Homo sapiens: one gene and its partner. The protein of the gene in region 2 interacts with the protein of the main gene of each other region in a biochemical or structural test. Each region holds a gene or a part of one and is shown on either strand. Other genes may lie near its edges.

Region 1 (3,828 bases), on a different chromosome or scaffold from region 2:
TGTTTTTTGAGACAGAGTCTACACCTCTGCCGCCCAGGCTGGAGTGTAGTGGCACGATCTCAGCTCACTGCAACCTCCGCCTCCTAGATTCAAGAGATTCTCCTGCCTCAACCTCCCAAGTAGCTGGGATTACAGGCGTACGCTACCACGCCCAGCTAATTTTTGTATTTTTAGTATAGACGGGGTATCACTATGTTGGCCAAGCTGGTCTCAAACTCCTGACCTCAGGTGATCCGCCCGCCTCGGCCTCCCAAAGTGCTCAGATTACAGGCGTGAGCCACCGCGCCTGGCCTATGTCTGTATTTTTTACAGAAATGTTAATGTGTTTAATCATGAGGCTACAACCTCTTACTAGGGATTTTGGATAACACGGTAGATGTGCTACATTATCTTTCCACAACTGCAAAAAAAGCCTTCATTCTAAAATACATCTGGACCAAGGATTTTGAACAAAGGATTATATACTTAAACATATATAAACTATCTTTGGAAGTATTCACAGGAATTTTAACAGTTTCCAGGCAGAAGAACTAGGTGGCTACACAGAGTAGAAAAGGAGATTCTTTATCTTTTTAAATCTTTGGAATTTTGAGTCAAAGTGAATTCATTACTACTTAGTCAAAATATAAAATGTAAACAAATTAAAACATTAAGACTTTTAAATTCTCAATAGTAACAGCCAAAGCTAGATGCTTTGGTTTTTGTTTAACTGAAAAGTGACGCTTTCTCAAGTCACAGAAAAATCCACACAGCAGTAGCTTTTCTTTATCTTACCTTTGGTTGACCCAATGGCATCTGAAAATCAGAAAGCCATCCTTCCTGGAACAAGTCAGAAAATGGTGATTTTTCTACCCAATTAATGACTTTTAGGAAATAACATCTTATGGTTTTGATGTTTCCTGCCAAGCAAAGCAAGTGCTTGTGTGTGGCTATTTTTCGTTTCTAGTTTCCCCAGAAATATGGTGGGTGGCAGGCTTGAGTCTCTCAGCACCAAGAGGCAGTACTGGAGGACTATACTTCTCAATACTGGAGAGAGACTTTAAAAAGTGTTTCTAGTACAGATCCAGCCTTACATCATAAGAGCTTCAATACAGAGGAGATTGAGAACTCTGGTTAGTACCTGAGTAGCATCTTTTCTACTGTCAGCTTTTCATATTTCTCATATACTTATTTTGATACCCTGTTGTATTCCAAAATGAATTCATAAGGTTTGCCTTTTCTTATGATTTGGATTTTGACTAATGTGCACCACACTCTCAACTTAAACCAGGAATCAGAAAAGAAGATATCTTGCTTTCTCAGGTTTATCGAGTGAGTACAAAGGCATGGCAAGAGATGTAAGGTTTGGAAGGCCCCAAATGCCCCAATGACAAAAGAAATTCCTAATGAAATGACTAACAATATTTGCTTCCTTGTGTTAGGACATAAATGTGCTTACGTTAATCCTTATCTTCTATCAAATTATACTCAGCTCACTGAGGGTAGAAACTGACTTCTATTTCCTTTGGTTCCTACATCACCGAATACCTGGATTAGTATAGTGCAATGCTCAGTAAATACTGCCGAAGTAAAAACCAGTGTCATCTCATAGTAGATGCTCTTGAGAAGGAACAAGAAATTTAATCCACCATTATAATCATAGAAACGCTAAACAGAAGACTTAGAAAACCACAGAAAATACAGAAAAGATAATATTTCTAAGTGGTACTAATAAATAATCTCCCTCATTTTTTAAGAGGCCTCCAGGCCTCAATGAATTGTTGTGGTTACCAGGTCTCTGACAAATCTGCAATCTTCACAGAATCGAAGATCCCAATAACACTAAATTTAAAAGATGTGACAGCATTCCATTTTCTTCAAATGTGTCACATGATAAAGCTATTCGTAGCTCCTAAATTCTCATTCCTTTAGATGTCTATAACAAACCTAGGAAAGCTTAGGCAATTTTCTCCTGTGGGAAAAGGCAAAAAATCGTGAAAGTGGCAAATATGTTCCCTTCAATATTTGCTTCTGGAACATTTCCAAATTTTAAGATAGAGAGGATTACTGGTCCAAATGTTAATATAAATCATCTCAGTCAATTCAGATTACATGAGATGATCGAATTTTAAATAAACCCCCCAGAGATGCAGAGTGAAACAAATGGCATATTCTGGAGAATTAGAATGGACACTGTGCATTAAACTGGTTTGACGTTTACTTGGCATTTTATGTTTGTTCAAAGTTAAATATAAGTGATAACAATAGCAAAAACTACCTGAATACTTGTATCTAGCATTCCAGCCACCACAACAGTGCCAGGCACTTTACATGCAGTACCTAATTTAAACCTCACAGCCCTATGAGGTTACGTGCTATTATTATTCTCATTTGACAGATAATAAAACAGGCCCAAATATGTTATATAACCTGAACTAGCCTATACCACAGTTAGATTGGAGCACGATTAGAACTCAGGGCTGACCTTAAAACCCACGCTAGCAATCATTGTAAGGTTTGAGTTCCTTGACTTTCTAAAGAATGGCAGATTTTAACTAAATCTGAAATATAATAAAGGGTAACAGGAAACACAGGTATCTCTTGTATTTGTGATATAACCCACCTCCAAGAAAAAGAATGGAAGCTACTAAGTTTTCCAAAAAGGGGTCTCCTCTCTGTCTCTCTCCATGCACATACGTATACACACATACACACACACACACACACACACACAATTTTAAAAACTGGATTTCAGTGAAATTTGGCCTGCACAGAGATGTGAAGTGGGCTTTTGTTTGGCGGGAACCCTTTCATATACCTTTTAAAAGAGCATAAATTAACTGTTTAGCGATGCCTTCAGTCTAATCCTTGATTATAAGCTTCCTGAGGATAATGAACTCATTTTATGTCTTCCACAAAGTCTCTGGGAGCATACGGTCTCATTAGAAGGCATGATGCTGTGGAATAAATAAAAGCCTACCTTTCCAAGAATCTCTAGCTTATGGTGAAGCCTTCCATTTGTTTTCTAAGTCTGGATATTAAAGAAAAAATTCAACTCAACAATTTTTTTGGCTTCTGAAAATTACAAAATTACAAAATCCTAACTTTGACTACTGTTCTTAACTTAGGCTTCTGATTATCACCCAAGAAGGGCTCTTTTTGTCCTAGTATGTTTTCTCAAGAACCACCTATCTGAGGAACAAGCCTTCTATAAAAAAAAGTTCTGACAGCCTCAGTTTATACTTTTAAAGCCAAAAACATTAAGGCACTTGCCTAAAGCTCCAGAATTTGATGACAAAGTCCAGATGGCAGAACTGAGAAATGAACCTAGGTCTGATTCCTGGATTGCTCTAGCTCCACCTATTGACCTGAATGACAGGATAACTCATTTCAATACTCCTGTTACCTTTCAGTCAACTCACTTCTGAAATCAAAGTTCAACTTAACCTGCATTAAGAGTAAGAATGCAAGGCTTCTAAATGTTCAGGTAAAGAGCTCATGATTAAGACAATCAGCATCACAGTTCACTGACATAGGCAAATGATTCATATATAAAGCTATGTGGTTATAATGACTTCCTTGGACCACATGAATCAGAAAAGCTACTACCCATACCATTGACTTGACCAGAGACCTCTAGAGCACTGGAATCCTAATGTCAGACATTATTTTGTATTTCCACTCGTGCAACAAAGCATCTCAACCATGTAGATGACTGAAATATGTCAAAATTCAACCCGCTGGCAAAGCAGACCAACAAGAAGCAGGCTCCTATTCAACAACCTCTTAGCACTAGGATAGTTGGGGACTAGTCATTTAACAACAAATTCCTTCAAGTTGTTTCACTGA
Region 2 (3,828 bases):
CTGTTTAATGGCCCACCCTGCAATAAGAATTCTTTCATCTGTATTTACAAAACTGTTTACACAGATGCACATACCATTGCACTCTGACAAAGTCTCAAGGCTACAGGGTGAGAAGAAAAAGATAATAGGAAGCATTTAATAACTACCCCACAAGAGGACTTAGTGATGGAACCAAGGGTGGAAAAGACAAGGCTTTGTATCACATTGTAAAGAACGCTTTCATCTTACGCCCTTTATAGCAAAATGAGTTTCTGAATTTGAGATTGAGTCCCATGAAAAAACCTATAAAAAGCACATTTGAGTGCTCCCTTATTTTCAGAAAGTTGCCAGTGGCACATCTTCTGCTTTCCTCTGCTGATCTAGAAGATTCCTTTGGCTGAGTTATTTTTACAACGGTGTCTCAGGGCCAGTTTGCACTGACTTATTGTCAAACTTGCAGGAATTTTTTGAGCCAGTTCTTAAACACAGCCACTATTAACAGTTAAATTATATAACTTCACAATCAAAAAATATGTTAAAAACAGAAGATAAAAATGCAAAACTCATCACTTTCTAATTATCTTACTACATTTCATTACCAATTATACACCTGAGGTTACTTATGTCTCTGGTATCCGTATGCTAGAAATACTACATTACGCTGTGCTATTGCATCTTTGCAACTCGGCATTCAGGGTTCTCACAGTGATGGCTCGTAGTGGGCCATGAAAGCAATATGTACATCACAGACCCAGCAAAAGCTACTGATGAGGGCGTTTTGTTTTTCTCTCATGCAGGCTGTTGCTAAACATTTACCAGCACGCCACTGCATACAGAAGCACAGGGCAGAAGAGATAAAGAAGGAGAGATGCTGTATATAAGCAACCTGATTTTAAGCTGTATATTAAGGTAGTACATCTCAGAACCTCTACAGGTTTTATTTAGTATTTTACTTAAATATGAATTTCTTAATCTCAAGGAGTCATGAATTACCTAACGCAGTATTCTCCTTAGATCTATGCTATGCTTCTTGCCTTGCTCCTTTCTAAGTAATACTAATTGAGTCTCTATCTCTTTAATTGTATATTCGCAGTGTCCAGAGTCATGCGTCTACTGATATTAAATATTAATCACCTGGAAAAGATGGTCAACAGTTTTAATCAAATAAGTTATATTCTGCAAAACTATGTACAGCTGAACCATTCAATATAAGGTAGAAAACCTAATTCCATAAGCTACCTACTAAAATTAGTCTCCTAACTTTACAGAACAAGTACACACATATGCTCATAAAAATGGGATGATCTGATTTAAAGTTTAAGTGAAGCAATTTAATTCAAGCAAAGCGAAAGGGAAATGCTCAAATGTCAGTAGATAGATTAATTTTCCATTTTAGCAACCAATTTAAATGTTTATAAAAGGAATGTTTATAAATGACTTTCTCCACAAATTATAAGTATAGATAGAGTGAGCTCTTTCTAAAAATATTTTGCACAGATGTGCAAAATTAATAGGCTCACCTTAAATCTACTCTAGGCCTTCAGAATTGTTAATAGAAATTTTTTCCAAGAACGCAAAAAACAGTTTCTAGAAAACTGGTATCTGCAGGTTACCTGTGGTCCATGGGGTAGCTGCTATCTGGTATGGACTGCGATGGAGGGAGGTGAGCTGGGAAGGCCCGGTCAGGTTTCGGTGTATGAGTTGAGTTTGGAGATGCATGATGCAGTGGGGACACTGGCGTGCTGGATGGTGTGGGGGGGTTGGAGGGCCTCATTCCCACTTGTGGCTTCTGATCATAGGCACTACCCAGGGGACAAAAGAAGAGAGAACATTTCTTTCTTTGGAGCAATTTTTTAAAAAAGTTTCTAATCCAAAGGAAGAAAAGATATTTTAGACTTAAGTCAAATGGAAATGAAAACTTTGTTGTTGCTATTGTTGTTTAAATCCAGAACAGATAAACTTCAAAATCACAACACCCTTAAACAGAAAATAGGATGATTAATGCAAAACCTTGTAACAGAACAAATATTAAATGTGTATTTTTAATGCATATACAAACAACTTAGTACAGGGAAAATTACGTCCAAAAAAGCAGTGGTATTTTTTCCATCTATTCTTGATATATCTATTTGAGAAAGTTTGATAGATCTTTCCTAAATCATTAAATACTTCTGATATTATATTCTTCTTTTATATTATGTAAGATTTTAAAACAAGAACTAACATCAGCTTAATAAGGCAGAGACCACACCTGGCTTGCTTTTATTTGTGGTGGGATTTTAAGAAGGCAATGCTTTTACTTTATTTTCATTTTATTATATTAAATAAATGATGCTTGGCATTAACTTCCCCACATGGGATAATGAAGATTAATGAGGTAAATTAAAATGTCTGATATATTTAAACTTTCTTAGAGAATAAGTAAAAAATAATGTCATTAGGAATAAAATCCTATTATAGTCTAACTTCTAAACACAGTTACAGAAGAATAAAATGAGTAAGCTTGATTTTACATTATGATTTTAAACTGCTTTCCTAGGTGTAACTTTCAGGAATGTGATTTAGCTAATTTTGGTCATCTATAAAATATTTTACTAAAACTAAATTTTCTTAAATTTTTTTTAACAACAGGGCATTTCTAAGTTAGAATGCTGTATTTCATTTTGCTGGGCGCAGTGGCTCATGCCCCTGATCCTAGCACTTTGGGAGGCTGAGGTGGGAGGATCGCTTAAGCACGGGAGTTTAAGACCAGCCTGAGCAACATGGTGAAACCCCGTCTCTACTAAAAATACAAAAAATTAGCTGGGCGTGGTGATGCATGTCTGTAGGCTCAGATATTCACGAGACTGAGGTGAGAGGATCGCTTGAACTCGGGAGGCAGAGGTTGCAGTGAGCCCAGATTGTGCCACTGCACTCCAGCCTGGCTGACAGAGTGAGACCCTGTCTCAAAAAAAAATAAGTAAAATAAAATAAAAAGCAATCATCAGTACACTTTTTTCTTTAGAAAGAAATATTTCTTTTTGAATTAAATTATGTAATAATTTATTCTGTTGCTCCATCAATGCAACGGAATTATATCCAGCTGCAAAAATCTTTTACAAGGAGTAAAGGAATATATGCTGCACAAGGCAGCTCTTGCTTCAAAGCAAAGTCAACAGTGTTCATATAATGAATTGCATGTTTGGTTCCACCTATGTTCTTTACCAGTATTTCTGAAGAAAAACCCACTTCTTTTGTGAAATGGTTCACCTAACTCATTCTCATGAATGAAGAAACAAATGATACTATTCCCCCATGAAATGCTGTACTCAATAATATTTTCTGTATAGCGATGGAAGTACCAGAATTTATTGCATATGCCATATATCACTGTGGGGACTTTTCATCCCCCAAAAGAAACACAAAATATTCAGGCAATTCCTTTATTATTGATTTGTGGATGTCAGATATGGCATATAAAACAGTGATGATTTCACAGTCACAATTCTGATTAATGCTGAAAGGCAATGACAATTCTATATCTAACTGCCATTGACTAGAAATTCCTCAATATGTTAAATAATTATGCTGTGGATACACAGTACTTGTAAGGAGAAAATGCAAAAACAAAACTAAACTATAAAATAAAACTCAGATCGATCAATACTGTCTTATCTGAACTCATTATGCTTTAATAGTTACCTTCTACAAGAGACCTTTTTTATAAAACTTTGCAGTTTCAATTGAGCTAGCTCATAATTTCAGGCTCTGGTGAACCTCTTAGAAAAGCAAATATAAAAGACAAGTTTGCAAGAACAAATGGTAATAAAATATCTGAGCATTGGTCAGCTGCCATAATGGCACAAGTCT

The links.
Region 1: of the proteins of ETV1 (region 2) and MAPK8, one has a biochemical effect on the other in vitro, tested with the Homo sapiens proteins (one study listed by BioGRID).

The regions. Positions count from the first base shown.
Region 1 is NC_000010.11:48,309,615-48,313,442, reverse strand, and holds part of MAPK8 (mitogen-activated protein kinase 8), read right to left. Parts: intron 1-3,828. UniProt on the Homo sapiens protein: Serine/threonine-protein kinase involved in various processes such as cell proliferation, differentiation, migration, transformation and programmed cell death.
Region 2 is NC_000007.14:13,934,116-13,937,943, forward strand, and holds part of ETV1 (ETS translocation variant 1), read right to left. Parts: intron 1,782-3,828; coding exon 1,593-1,781; intron 1-1,592. UniProt on the Homo sapiens protein: Transcriptional activator that binds to DNA sequences containing the consensus pentanucleotide 5'-CGGA[AT]-3'. Required for olfactory dopaminergic neuron differentiation; may directly activate expression of tyrosine hydroxylase (TH).